2 separate regions of the Homo sapiens genome follow, and region 2 is linked to region 1. The links come from fine-mapping of genetic effects on gene expression. Tissue or cell type: coronary artery. Region 1 holds a variant in brackets; the other region holds the start of a gene. All regions are shown on one strand. Distances are from middle to middle.

What was found. PIP is the estimated chance that this variant, and not a neighbour inherited with it, causes the effect.
Region 2: CYP3A4-AS1 starts here. The variant in region 1 is fine-mapped to the expression of CYP3A4-AS1 in coronary artery (GTEx, PIP 0.96).

Annotation. Positions count from the first base shown.
Region 1 is chr7:99,958,895-99,966,581 of GRCh38, reverse strand. No RefSeq gene overlaps it. Among named protein-coding and RNA genes, the nearest start is that of AZGP1, 13 kb to the left of the region's middle. The variant A/G (reference allele first, on the strand shown) is at 3,776.
Region 2 is chr7:99,760,991-99,768,677 of GRCh38, reverse strand. It overlaps CYP3A4-AS1 (CYP3A4 antisense RNA 1), which reads right to left and starts at 4,746. Exons shown (of 1, transcript NR_198962.1): 1 at 1,782-4,746. CYP3A4 (cytochrome P450 family 3 subfamily A member 4) reads left to right here. Exons shown (of 13, transcript NM_017460.6): 7 at 176-324; 8 at 1,420-1,547; 9 at 2,235-2,301; 10 at 4,663-4,823; 11 at 6,411-6,637. RefSeq lists an enhancer at 4,767-5,047.

The sequences.
Region 1 (7,687 bases):
CAAGTGTGGCCTGAACCCCCTTTCCCTTGGGGATTGTTCAGGTGTCCCTAGACGCCTTGTGGTATTGTACCTAATACCCATGAAGGGAGAGGATGATATTACTTGCCAGTGTACACCCCCCTGTGATATTGTTCATAATGTCCAGAGTGAAGAAAGATGATATTACTCCCAATATCACAGAAGGTGTACACCCCCCCTTGATATTGTTCCTAATACCCAGTTGGGGAGGGGAGAATATCTCTCCCAATATACAAGGGGTGTTTAAACTCTCTGTGATATTGTTCCTAATATTCAGGGGGGACAAGGATGATATTACCCAAATATTGCAGGGGTTGTACACCCCCCCTTTGATATTGTTCCTAATATCCAGGGGTGGAGAGGATATTACTCCCAATATTGCAGGGGTCTACATCCTCCCCCCGTGACATTGTTCTTAATAACCAAAAGGTGAGAAGCTGACATTACTCCCAATACCACAGGGGGTGTACACCCCCTATGAGATATTGTTCTTAATATCCAGGAGGGGAGAAAATGATATTACTCTCAATAGCGCAGGGAATTTACATCCCCCGTCGTAATCTTGTTCTTAATATTCAGGAAGGGAGAGGATGATACGACTCCCAGTATCGCAGGGGGTGTGCACCCCCCCGTGATTTTTTTGCTAATATCCAGGGTGGGAGTGGATAATACGCAGGAAGTGTACAGGTCTCTGTGATATTTTTCCTAATATCCAGGGGGGAGAGGAAGATATTACTTTTAATAGTGTACGGGGGGTGTACACCCCTCTGTGATAGTGTTCCTAACATCTTGGGAGGGAGAGGATGATATTACTCCCAATATCGCAGGGGGTGAAAACTTTTTTTTGATATTTTTCCTAATATCCAGGGGTGGAGACGATGAAATTACTCCCAATATCACAGAAGGTGTACACTCCTTTTGTCATATTGTTCCTGATATCCAGGGTAGGAGAGGATGATATTACTTCTAATATCGCAGGAAGTGCATACGCCCTTGTGATATTGTTCCTAACATCCAAAGGAAGAGAGAATAGTATTACTTCCAATATCGCAGGGGGTGTACAGCCCCCCTTGTGATATTGTTCCTAATATCCAAGATGGAGAAATTTCTATTATTCTCAATATCACAAAGGATGTACACCACCACCGTAATATTGTTTGTAATTTCCAGGGAGGGGAGAGGATAATATTACTCCCAATATCCCAAGGGTTGTACACCCCTCTGTGATATTTTTCATAATATTTAGGGGTGAAGAGGATGATATAAATGCAAATATCACAGGGGGTGGTCACTGTCTTGTGATATTGTTCGAAATATCCAAGAGGGGAGAGGATGAAATTACTCCCAATATCTCAGCGGGGGTACACCCCTCTGTGACATTCCTTGTAGTATTCAGGGGAAGAGAGGATAATATTACTCCCAATGTCGCTTTGGGTATTCATTCCCCTGTGATATTGTTTGTAATATCCAGGAAAGGAGACGATGACATTACTTTTAAAATCTAAGGGGTGTACACACCTCTGTGATATGGTTCATAATATCCAGGGGAAGAGAGGATAATATTACTCCCAATATCACAGGGGGTGTACACCCGCCTGTAATATTGTTCGTAATATTCAGGGTGGAAGAGGATGAAATTACTCCCAATATCGCAGTGGGTGTGTACCCCACTGTGATATTGTTTGTAGTATCCAGTCAAGGGGAGGATGATATTACTCCCAATACCGCAGGAGATGTACACCACTCTGTGATATTGTTCGCAGTATCCAGAGGGGGAGTGGGTAATATTATTCCCAATATCGCAGTAGGTGTACACTTCCCTGTGATATTGTCTGTAATATCCAGGGAAAAAAGAATGATATTACTCCCAAAATTTCAGGGAATGTACACCCTCCTGTGATATTGTGCATAATATGCAAGGGGGAAGAGGATGATATTACAGCAAATATCACAGGGGGTGTACAAGCCCCTGTGTTATAGTTTGTAATATCCAGAAGGGGAGAGGATAATATTACTTCCAAATCACAGGGGGTGTACACCCCCCTGTGATATTGTCCGTAATATCCAGGGGGGAGAGGATGATATTATTCCGAATATCGCAGGGGTGTACACTCTGCTGTGGTATTGTTCGCAATATCCGGGGAGGAGGATGATATCAATCCCAAGATGGTAAACACCCTGTGTGTACACCACCCTGTGATATTGTCCATAATATCCGGGGAAGGGGGGAGAAAATAATATTACTCCCAGTATCGCAGGGAATGTACACTCCCCTGTGATATTGTTTGTAATATGCGGGGGGGAGGGGAGAATATGATACTACTTCCAATATCGCAGGGGGTGTAAACCCCCCTGTAATATTGTTCGTAATATTCTGGGAGGGGAGAGGATGATATTACTCTCAATATTGCAGGGGGTATACACCACCCTCTGTGATATTGTTCTTAATATCCAGAGGAGGAGAGGATGATATTATTCCCAATATCACAGGGAGTGTACTCTCCCTTTGGGATATTGTTCCTAATATCCATGGGAAGAGAGGATAATATTACTCCCAATATCGCAGGGAATGTATATCCCCCCCTTTGATATAGTTTCTAATATCCAATTTGGGAGAGGATATTAATCCTAATATCGCATGGGGTGTACACGCTCCCTGTGATATTGTTCCTAATGTTCAGGTTGGGAGAGGATGAGGTTGTACACCGCCTGAGATATTGGGAGTAGTGTCATCCTCTCTTCCCGTTGATATTAGGAAGAATTTCACAGGAGGGGTGTACATCTTCTGTGCTTTTGGGAGTAATATCATCTTCTCCTTCCCTGGGTATTAGGAGCAATATCTCGGGGGGGTGTACATACTCTGCAATATTGGGAGTCATATCGTGTTCTCTCACCCTGGACAGTAGGAACAATATCACAGGAGGGGTGTACACCCCCTGCGATATTAAGAGTAGTATCATTTTCAGGCCGGGTGCGGTGGCTCACGTCTGTAATCCCTGCACTTTTGGAGGCAGAGGCGGGAGGATCACGAGGTCAGGAGATTGAGACCATTCTGGTAAACACGGTGAAACCCCGGCTCTACTAAAAATATAAAAAATTAGCTGGGCGAGGGGGTGGGCGCCTGTAGTCCCAGCTACTCGGGAGGCTGAGGCAGGAAAATGGTGTGAACCAGGGGGGCGGAGCCTGCAGTGAGCCGAGATCGCACCACTGCACTCCAGCTGGGGCGACAGCGAGACTCCGTCTCAAAAAAAAAAAAAAAAGTAGTATCATTTTCCCTTCCTGGATATTAGAAACAATATCACATTTGGGGTGTAAAACCCCTGCTATATTGGAAGTAATATCATCCTCTCTTTTCATGGTTATTAGGAACAATATCACAGGGGTGTATACACCTTCTGCGATATTGGGAGTAATATCATCCTTTCCCCACCTGGATGTTAGGAAGAATATTGCAGGCGGAGGGTACACCCCCTGCGATATTGCCAGTAATATCATCTTATTCCTTCCTGAATATTAAAAATAATATCTCTGGGGGGGTGTACACCCCCTTCAATATTGGGGGTAATATCATTCTCTTTCCCCCGGGATATTGGAAAGAATATCACGGGGTGGTGGTGTACACCCCCTGCGATATTGGTAGTAGTATCAACCTCTCACCCCTAAATATTAGGAACAACATCACAAAGGGGGTGTACACCCCCTGAGTTATTGGGAGTAATGTCATTGTCTATCCCCTGGATATTAGGAAAATTAACAC[A/G]GGAGGTGTGTACACCTCCTGCAATATTGGGAGTAATATCAACCTTTCCCCACCAGGATATTAGGAACAATATCATGTGGGGGTGTACACCTCTTTCCATATTGAAAGTAATATCATCCTCTTTTTTCCTGGATATTAGAAACAATATCACAGGAGGTTGTACACCTCCTGCGATATTGAGAGTAATATCATCCTCTCTCCTTCTGGATATTAAAAACAATATCACAGGCAGGGTGTACACCCCCTGCAATATTGGGAGTAATATCATCCTCTCTCCACTTGGATATTAAGAACAATGTCACAGGGGGTATGTACCCCCCCTGCGATATTGAAAGTAATATCATCTTCTCTTTACCTAAATATTAGGAACAATGTCACAGGGAGGGTGTATACCCCCTGCGATATTGACCATAATATCATGCTCTTTCTTCTTGGATATTAGGACCAATATCACAAGGGGGGTGTACACCCTCTGCAATATTGGGAGTACTATTATCCTCTCCCCACCTGGATATTAGGAACAATATCACAGAGAAGGTGTACACCCTCTTCGATATTGGGTGTAATATCATCCTCTCCCTACTTGGAACAATATCACGGCATTGGGGGGAGGCTGTACACTTTCTGCGGTATTGACAGTCACATCATCCTCTCACCCCCTGGATATTAGGAACAATGTCACAGAAGGTGTGTACACGCCCTACGATATTGGTAGTAATATCCTCTCTCCACCTGGATATTAAAAACAATGTCACAGGGGGTATGTACACCCCCTGCGATATTGGGGGTAAAGCAACCTTTCCTTCTTTGGATATTACATAAAATATCACAGAAAGGGTGTACACCTCCCGCGATATTGGGAGTAATATCATCCTCTCCCCACTTGGATATTAGAAACAACATGATGGGGGTTGTACACTTCCTCCGATATTGGGAATAATATAATCCTCTTTTGCCCTCGATATTAGGAAAAATATTACATTAAGGGTGTACACCCCCTTCGATATTGGGAGTAATATTATCCTCTACCCCCCCGATATTAGGAACAATATTACCAGAGAAGTGTACACCCCCTGAGACATTGGGATAATATCCTCTCCCCGCCTGGATTTTAGGAACAATATCACAGTGGGGGTGTATACCCCCTGCGATATTAAGAGTAATATTATCACAGGGAGGTGTACACTTTTTGAGATATTGGGAGTAACATCATCCTCTCGCCCCCGAATATTAGAAACAATATTACGGAGTGGGGATACACTCCCTGCGACATTGGGAGAAATATCATCCTCTTCCCTCTGAATATTAGGAACAAAATCACAGAGGGTTGTATATTCCTTGCGATATTGGCAGTAATATCCTCTCTGCCCCTGGATATTAGGAACAATATCACAGAAGGGGTGTATCCCCCTTCGACATTGGGAGTAATATCATCCTCTCTGCCGCTGGATATTAAAAACAATATTAAAGGGGGGTGTAAAACCCCTGCGATATTAAGGTAATATCATCCTCTCCCCCCCCGGATATTAGGAACAATATCACAGGGGGAGTGTACACCCCCTGCTATATTGAGAGAAATATCATACTCTCCTCAAATGGATATTAGGAGTAATATCACAGGGATGGGGTGTACACGTTCTGCTATATTGGGAGTAATATCATCCTCTCCCTACCTGGATATTAAATACAATATCACAGGGGGTGTTACCCCCCCTGCAATATTGGGAGTAATATCATCCTCTCCCATTCTGAATATTAGGAACAATATCACAGTGGGGGTTGTACACCCCCTGTGATATTGGCAGTAATGTCATTCTCTCCCGCTTTGAATATTAGGAACAGCATCACGGAGGTTGCACACAACCTGCAATATTGGGAGTAATGTCATTTTCTCTTCCACCTGGACATAAGAACAAATATTACAGGGAGGAATACACCTTCTGCGATATTGGAGCAATATCATCCTCATTTCCCCTGGATATTAGGAAAGATATTACAGTGGGGGGTGGACACCCCTGCGACATTGGGAGTAATATTATCCTCTGCCCCGTTGGATATTAGAAAAAACATCACAAAGGAAGTGTACACCCCCTGCTATATTGGGAGTAATATCATCCTCTCCCCCCTGGATATTAGAAACAATATCAAGGGGGAGAGTACACCACCTTCGATATTGGGAGTAATATCATCCTTTGCCCTTCTCGATATTAGGAACAATATCGCAGTGTGGTGTACACTGCCTGCGATATTGGAAGTAGTATCATACTCTTCCTCCCTCGATATTATGAACAACATCACAGGGTTGTGTACCCCCCTGCAATATTGGGTTTAATATTGTCCTCTCTTTCCCTAGATATTACTAACAATATTACCAGGGAGTGTACACACAGGGTGTTTAAAATATTAAACTTGATGTCATCCTCTCCCCCCCGGATATGGCAAGCAATATCACATGGAGGTGTACACCCCCTGTGATATTCGAAGTAATATAATCCTCTCCCTCCCTGGATATTACAAAAAATATCACAGCGGAATGTACACCCCCTGCGATATGGGGAGTAATATCTTCCATTTCCTCCATAAATATTATGGACAATATCACAGGGGCATGTGAACCACCCGTGATGTGGGAAATAATGTCATCCTCTCCCCTTCTGAATATTACAAACAATATTACAGGGGGGTGTACACACCTTGTGATATAGGAAATAATATTATTTTCTCCCCCTCTGGATATTACAAACAATATCACGGAGAGGTAATATCATCCTCTCCCCCACTGGATATTATGAACAATAGCACAAGGGGATGTACACCCCCTGTGATATGGGGAGTAATATCATGCCTTCCCCCCTGCATATTAGGAACAATATAATAGGGGGGTGTACATCTTCTGCGATATGGGGAGTAATATCTTCCTCTCCCTCCCTAAGTATTACAAACAATATCACAGGGGGATGTCCACTCCCTGTGATATGGGAAGTAATGTCATCCTCTCCCCTTCTAAATATTACAAACAATATTACAGGGGGGTGTACACACCTTGCGATATATGAAATAATATTATTTTCTCCCCCTCTGGATACTATGAACAATATGAAAGTGGGATGTATACCCCCTGCGATATGGGGAGTAATATCATTCTCTCCCCTCCTGGATATTACGAACAATATTACAATCGGGTGTACACCCTCTACGATATGAAGAGCAGTAATCTCCTCTCCCCCTTGGATATTAGGAACAATATTACAGGGGATGTACACCCCCTGCGATATTGGGAGTAATATCATCCCCTCCCCTCCTGGATATTACGAACAATATCACAGACGGTGTACACACAGGGTGTTTACCATATTGGGAGTAATATCATCTCCCTTCCAGGAGATTACGAACAAAATCACAACGGGGTGTTTACCCCCTGTGATATTGGGAGTAATATTATCCTCTTCCCTCCTGGATATTATGAACAATATTACAGAAGGGTGTACACCCTCTGCGATATTGGGAGTAACATCACTCTCTCCCTTTCTGAATATAATGAACAATATCACAGGGAAGTAACATCATCCTCTTCCCCCCTGGATGTTACGAACAATATCACAGGAAGGTGTACACTCCTTGCAATATGGGGAGTAATATCATCCTCTTTCCCCTGGGTATTACCAACAATATCACAGGAGGGTTTACACCATCAGCGATATAAGAAGTAATGTCACCCTCTCCCTCCAGGGATATTATGAACAATATCACGGGGGGGTGTGCCCCCTCTGCCATATAAGGAGTAATGTTATCCTCTCATTCCCTGGATATTACAAACAATATCACAGGGGGATGTACATACCCTGCGATATGGGGAGTAATATTATCCTCTCCCCACTGAATATTATGAACATTATCACGGGGCAGTGTACA
Region 2 (7,687 bases), 200 kb after region 1:
TCACTGGCACCTGATAACACCTTCTGATGGAGTGTGATAGAAGGTGATCTAGTAGATCTGAAAGTCTGTGGCTGTTTGTCTGTCTTGACTGGACATGTGGGTTTCCTGTTGCATGCATAGAGGAAGGATGGTAAAAAGGTGCTGATTTTAATTTTCCACATCTTTCTCCACTCAGCGTCTTTGGGGCCTACAGCATGGATGTGATCACTAGCACATCATTTGGAGTGAACATCGACTCTCTCAACAATCCACAAGACCCCTTTGTGGAAAACACCAAGAAGCTTTTAAGATTTGATTTTTTGGATCCATTCTTTCTCTCAATAAGTATGTGGACTACTATTTCCTTTTATTTATCTTGCTCTCTTAAAAATAACTGCTTTATTGAGATATAAATCACCATGTAATTCATCCACTTAAAATATACAGTTCAGTGATTTGTAGTACATTTGAAGATATGTGTGACCATCATCATTTTAAACTTTAAAACTTTTTTTGTCAATCTAGAGACCTCATACATTTTTAGCTATCAGCCCCCTGTCACAAACCCTGTCATCATATGCAACCACTAATCAACTTTCTGCTTCTATGGATTTGCCTATTCTGGACACTTCATAGAAATGATATTAATTCATCAGGGTTTTTTATTCTCTAGTTCATGAATTTGTACTTTAGTCTGTATCATTTTCTTTCTTCTGCTGGCTTCAGGCTTAGTTTGCCCTTCTTCGTTTACTATGTTGTGGCATGAACATAGATTACTGATTTGTGATTTTTTTGTTCCTCTAAATTTAGACATTACAGCTGTAACTTTCCCTCTGAGCACTTCCTTTGCTAAATCCCATGAGATTGTGGTCTATCACATCTTAGTTTTTGTTCACCTCAAAACAGTTTCTATTTGCCCTTTTGGTTTCTACTTTGACTCATTGGTTACTTAAATGTTTATTATTTAACTTCCACATATGTGTGAGTTTCTCAATTTTCTTTCCCTTATTGATTTTATCTTTATTCCATGATAGGTGACAGAGATATGCTGTGTTATTTCTATCTTGACTACCTACTATTTCTTGAACAGCAAGATTAATTTTGAGCTTCAGATTATGATTTGGGTTATTCTAGGAGACTGTAGTCCAATAGATAAAGGCAAAGAGATTAGGGCATTGAATTTTGTTCCTTTTATCCTTCAAAAGATGCACAAGGGGCTGCTGATCTCACTGCTGTAGCGGTGCTCCTTATGCATAGACCTGCCCTTGCTCAGCCACTGGCCTGAAAGAGGGGCAAAAGTCATAGAAGGAATGGCTTCCAGTTGAGAACCTTGATGTCTTTTACTCTTCTGGTTGGTAGAGAAAACTAGAATTGCTCCAGGTAAATTTTGCACATTCACAATGAATTTCTTTTTCTGTTTTTGTTTTGTTTTTCCTACAGCAGTCTTTCCATTCCTCATCCCAATTCTTGAAGTATTAAATATCTGTGTGTTTCCAAGAGAAGTTACAAATTTTTTAAGAAAATCTGTAAAAAGGATGAAAGAAAGTCGCCTCGAAGATACACAAAAGGTAAAATGTGGTGGTAGTTATAGGAGGATGTTTAGTTTTTCATAATTTTTTAGATAATATACATATGATCAGTGCAGTTACCTGTATGTTTTTAAAGAATGCTTTTAACATGAAGACTGCTCATGTTTAGAGCAAGAGAATTCATTTGGTAGAAATGCAGAAAGTGGGGTTTGGGGAAGGAGATATGAGAATGAGTCAGAGACAGCACATGAAATTTGATATCAGACACAACAATTAGTATGCCACGGCATAAATTTTATTGAGATAAAACTTTACCACTTTACTTCCCTTCAATAAATTGTCAGAGGATAAACATTACTGTTTGGAAATATATTTTACTGATATTATGCTTTCCCCAGATCATAAATTGGTAAAGACTCATTTCAAGTACAAACCTGTTATTTTACACATTCTCAAATGAAAGTCCCTATCAGGCCACCTGCTGAAGTGTAGCGTGTGTTAAATTTGAGCCATCTCACATGATAGCCAGATTTGTTTCAGGAAAACATCCTGCTTTCCAAGGATTTAGAAGGGTATGTTTTTCACTGGTGATTCAGGCAACATGCATCAGATTTCTGGTCTTCAAGGAGCCATATTCTCAGAAGGGAGATCAAGGACCACGCTTGTGATTTACTTCTGACTTCAGGAGCCACTTTCTGTCAGTGAAATTTCTCTTTTTGCTTCTAGCACCGAGTGGATTTCCTTCAGCTGATGATTGACTCTCAGAATTCAAAAGAAACTGAGTCCCACAAAGGTAACCAGAGTGTTTCTGAGGGCTACTTGTGGGGCACTCAGAGGGAAGGCCTTGTTCTGAAAATGTGCAGGAAGTATTCCAGGATGATGAGAATTTCTGCCACATAGCAGAACGACACATGTTTGAATGTTATAAGTGGTAGTTGGAGGCACTTTCTAGAGGCATGCAGGCATAGATAGCCATGTTCTAAGAGTAAAGGGCAACCCTAAGCAAACCTGGCATGCTAGAAAGTCAGTCTGCGGTCTGTGGATCACCTACATCAGATCAAATGCCAATTCTCAGCCTCCTTCAGATCCACTGAATAAAAATTTCTGCCTAGAAATTTATTAGGTTGCTGCAAAATTAATTGTGGGTTTTTCCATTACTTTTAATTGCAAAAAAATGCAATTAAAAGTAATGGCAAAAACCACAATAACTTTTGCAGCTACCTAATACATCTAACATCCAATCAGGAGCCACGCTGTTCCAAAAGGGGTGATTTTAACTGGCAGTACTTGTTGAAAGTGTGTTCACCAGGTTAATCTACTGCAAAGTTATTTTCCACTTTGGAATGGATTAGTAACTTGTGGGGAAAACCTCTGAGACCGTGTAAATATCCTCTTTGTCTTCAATGTTTCACCTACGAGTTTTACAACCCATGTATGTTTTTTACTGAAGTCACTATTACTATGACAGTGGCAAAATGATGACCATGGTCAATTACAAGCCACCAAGACTTGGCAACCATCTCACAAAATTCCTGAATATTTAACTATTGGTTCTAGAGAGCAGGACTGGGCTTACTCCAGCATACTGCTTTAAATATATCCATGTCTACATCCACTTTTGTCTGTATGTCTATGTATCTATCTATGTATCTATCTAGCTATGTATCTATCTATCTATCTATCATCTATCTATCTATCATCTATCCATCTATCATCTATCATTTATCCATCTATCATCTATCTACTTATATATTATCTATCTATCATCTAACTATTCATCTATCTATCCCAATATAACTTGCTGTGATAAAGGAAATAGTCTATTGTTTTACTGTTTCATATAGAAATCACTAGACACATATGGCTATTGAGCACTGGATATGTGGCTAGTGCCATTGAAGATCAATTTTAAATGGTATTTCAGTTTAATTTAATAAAATTTGATTTTAAATAGCCACTAGTGGGTAGTGGCTACCATATTGGACAGCAGAGCTCTAAACTTTGAGATTATAGTTCAATTTCACATCAGTATCATCAGGTTCATGATAACTGAATACTATGATTAGGTAGTTGAATTTACTTATAACTGCATCACAGAAGTCTTCACTGGTAAATCACAGCTCTGTCGACCTTTCTCACACTCCTTTCATATTGGTTTTGGTTGTGAATTACATGGTTGGAGCAGGCATTATATTTATTTCTATGTTCCAGGTCTCTAAAGGTCCTAATCCAGTCCTGATCAAACAGACCAGTGATGGACCATCCTGAGCTTCTCTCAGGAGAAAAATCAAGAGGGGCCCAACTTGTAATCATAGGAGCTTATGCTATTTTAATGCCATCCATCAGACTACAATCAATTACCACTCATCTAGCTTTTTGTCCATCTCTCATTCTTGTACATCCTGAGATAGTCAATTCTGAGAACTGTAGCCTAGATCTATCACCTGATGCCTCTCAAAGATATAATCCGTGCTTCTCAAGCTAGGCTATGCACACAAATCACTGCATCTTGTGAAAGTTCAGATTTTGAATCAGTAGTTCAAGGGTGGGGTTTGAGATTTTGCATTTCTAATGAGCTCTCAGATGCTTCTGACCCATGGACCACACTTTGAATACCAAGAAGTGGTCTGTAGACCAATATTGGTCCCTTAAGTTCCCTCAAACATATCTTCGGGAAACGTCCTTTGATTTTCCCTACATTTAACCATTAGTGTTGCAAATTCTCTCAAAGTTTGTCAAGATATATTGTAGCTAAAATAAATTACATTTTTCTTGGGGGAGAGTACTACCTCATATTAACTTACAATAAAGTACTTTTAGGATCATTCAAGGAACACACCCATAACACTGAGTATGTTATGCGGAAATGCTCTCTCTGGAAATTACACAGCTGTGCAGGTGGCGGGGGTGGCATGAGGAGGAGTGGATGGCCCACATTCTCGAAGACCTTGGGGAAAACTGGATTAAAATGATTTGCCTTATTCTGGTTCTGTAAGATACACATCAGAATGAAACCACCCCCAGTGTACCTCTGAATTGCTTTTCTATTCTTTTCCCTTAGGGATTTGAGGGCTTCACTTAGATTTCTCTTCATCTAAACTGTGATGCCCTACATTGATCTGATTTACCTAAAATGTCTTTCCTCTCCTTTCAGCTCTGTCCGATCTGGAGCTCGTGGCCCAATCAATTATCTTTATTTTTGCTGGCTATGAAACCACGAGCAGTGTTCTCTCCTTCATTATGTATGAACTGGCCACTCACCCTGATGTCCAGCAGAAACTGCAGGAGGAAATTGATGCAGTTTTACCCAATAAGGTGAGTGGATGGTACATGGAGAAGGAGGGAGGAGGTGAAACCTTAGCAAAAATGCCTCCTCACCACTTCCCAGGAGAATTTTTATAAAAAGCATAATCACTGATTCTTTCACTGACTCTATGTAGGAAGGCTCTGAAAAGAAAAAGAAAGAAACATAGCAAATGGTTGCTACTGGCAGAAGCGTAAGATCTTTGTAAAACGTGCTGGCTCTGGTTCATCTGCTTTCTATTACTACAATAATGCTAAGTAAAAAACCTCCAAAAACCTCAGTGGCATCTAACAATAAGCATTTGTTGCTCACACTCATTTCACATTGGTTTTGGTTGTGAATTACATGTTTGCAGCAGGCACCATAGTGGTGTGTGATGTCCCCTTAGCTGTATCCACATATGGACACAGGAATTTGCTCTTTTTATCTCTTTTTATTTTCTTGGTTACAGACATGTGACTTTTTTTTTTGAAAGGTAACAATCACTTTCTCATATGTTATTTGATGCTAGTGGTCATAGCCTATTAGTCACATTTGTTTCAATGAGAAAGAAAAACCAGTACACGGTTATGCTAAGGATTTCAGTCCCTGGGGTGAGAGCCGTCTCGAATGTCTCCCCACTTCATAACTCCTCCACACATCATAGTTGGATAGTGAGCTCTGCTGATATTGGCAGGACTTGCTCTGGTCTGGCTGTAGTCTGACGGAGCCTGGCCCTGGGTGTGCTGTGCAGGCTGACTCAGCTCTCCCCACACCTATCTCATGTTCCAGTCAGGCAGTAACTGGTGAAGAAGCCAAGCTAGGAACCAGGATATCTGGCTCCTGAGCTAAAGTCTTAAAACACTATCATATTGCCTTCCAAATATAACACCAAATACTAGGTGCATATCACCCACACTGTTTTCAGACCTCTGCCAAAATTGGGATTCTTTGTGGTATGAAGAGACACGGCTTTGGGGCTGGCCCGGCTGTGGCAGTGAGGTGAACACAAAGGGATGTTCTTCAGAGATTACAGTCCAGCCCTGAAGCAACAACTAGGAGACTGTTTCAGCAAGTGAGGACAGGGCTGTGTGGGGTTCTATCCTCTTTATAACTTCCACTAGCACTGAAATCGTGTTCTCTGGTTACATCCAACCAGAACCTTCTTTGTCATTTTTGGGATAGAAAGGGACTAGTTTATCCTCAAATTATTTATGGAGATTTTATATAATATAGTGTTTCTCTCCACATTTTCTGTATATAACAAAAGTCCTCCTTTTAGTGTGTGTATACACATATATATACACATATATATGTGTGTGTGTATGTGTGTGTGTATATATATATAGACATATATACACGGTTATGCTAAGGATTTCAGTCCCTGGGGTGAGAGCCTTCCCGAATGCTTCCCACCTTCATAACTCCTCCACACATCTCAGTGGGCCACTGAGCACAGCAATGGGCATGACAGTTATTAAAACACTTTATAAATGCTTCGATCCTTTACCAGTATGAGTTAGTCTCTGGAGCTCCTAATACTTCATTAGTACTGCATGGACTGAGTTAAAAGTTAATTCAAAATCTCAATTTATCCAAATCTGTTTCGTTCTTTCCAGGCACCACCCACCTATGATACTGTGCTACAGATGGAGTATCTTGACATGGTGGTGAATGAAACGCTCAGATTATTCCCAATTGCTATGAGACTTGAGAGGGTCTGCAAAAAAGATGTTGAGATCAATGGGATGTTCATTCCCAAAGGGGTGGTGGTGATGATTCCAAGCTATGCTCTTCACCGTGACCCAAAGTACTGGACAGAGCCTGAGAAGTTCCTCCCTGAAAGGTACAAGGCCCCTGGGAAGGGAGCCCTCCCTGAACCAGCCTGGTTCAAGCATATTCTGCCTCTCTTAATCTACAGGACAGTCATGTGGTTGTATAATTATTTGCTTGTATTTTTATATTTAGAGATTTTTTTAATCATCAAATTGATTATTGTCACACTTTACAAACCATAGACTAGAAAAAAGAAAACTACAGTCATCCACAATTCCAACAACTTACGATGAAGGTCATCAGTTATGTCCTTATGGGTCATCAGTGTCCAAAATGTAAGGACTCTTTTAAAAACACATGATCACAATGCTATTATTATGTCCCCCAAATGAATATTTTTTTCATAAATATAATCAAATATTTAGGAATAACATTTTAATAAAAAACATGCATCTAATCTTCAAAGAATTTTATAGCTTACTGGAACAGATAGACAAAGAAAGCAGTGATGATACTGCATTACATCGGTACAGTAGCATCATATGCCTGTGTAAATTATCTGACTTCAACTATTCTATGGAGGTGTGGGGGAGAAAGAGGGAGAGATGGAGAGAAGAAGAAGGAGGAGAAGGAGGGAGAAGACAAGGTAAGGAGGAGAAGGAGGAGAATTAGAAAAACAAGAGAGGAGATGAGAAGGAAAGTGCAAAATAACAATTTTGAAATAGTACAAGACAATTTCCCCTTCTCCTTCCTCATGACCAATGTAAGTGTGACTTGAGGCAGGAACCTACTTTTCCATCAGTCAGTCCCATCACTTATGTGCCTTTTATAGTGTGGACACATCACCACCCTGAATATAATTTCAGTGTTTAGAAATAAGTATTCTTTGCAACACTATTTATCTCATCTCAACAAGACTGAAAGCTCCTATAGTGTCAGGAGAGTAGAAAGGATCTGTAGCTTACAATTCTCATAGCAAAATAAGCATAGCAGGATTTCAATGACCAGCCCACAAAAGTATCCTGTGTACTACTAGTTGAGGGGTGGCCCCTAAGTAAGAAACCCTAACATGTAACTCTTAGGGGTATTATGTCATTAACTTTTTAAAAATCTACCAACG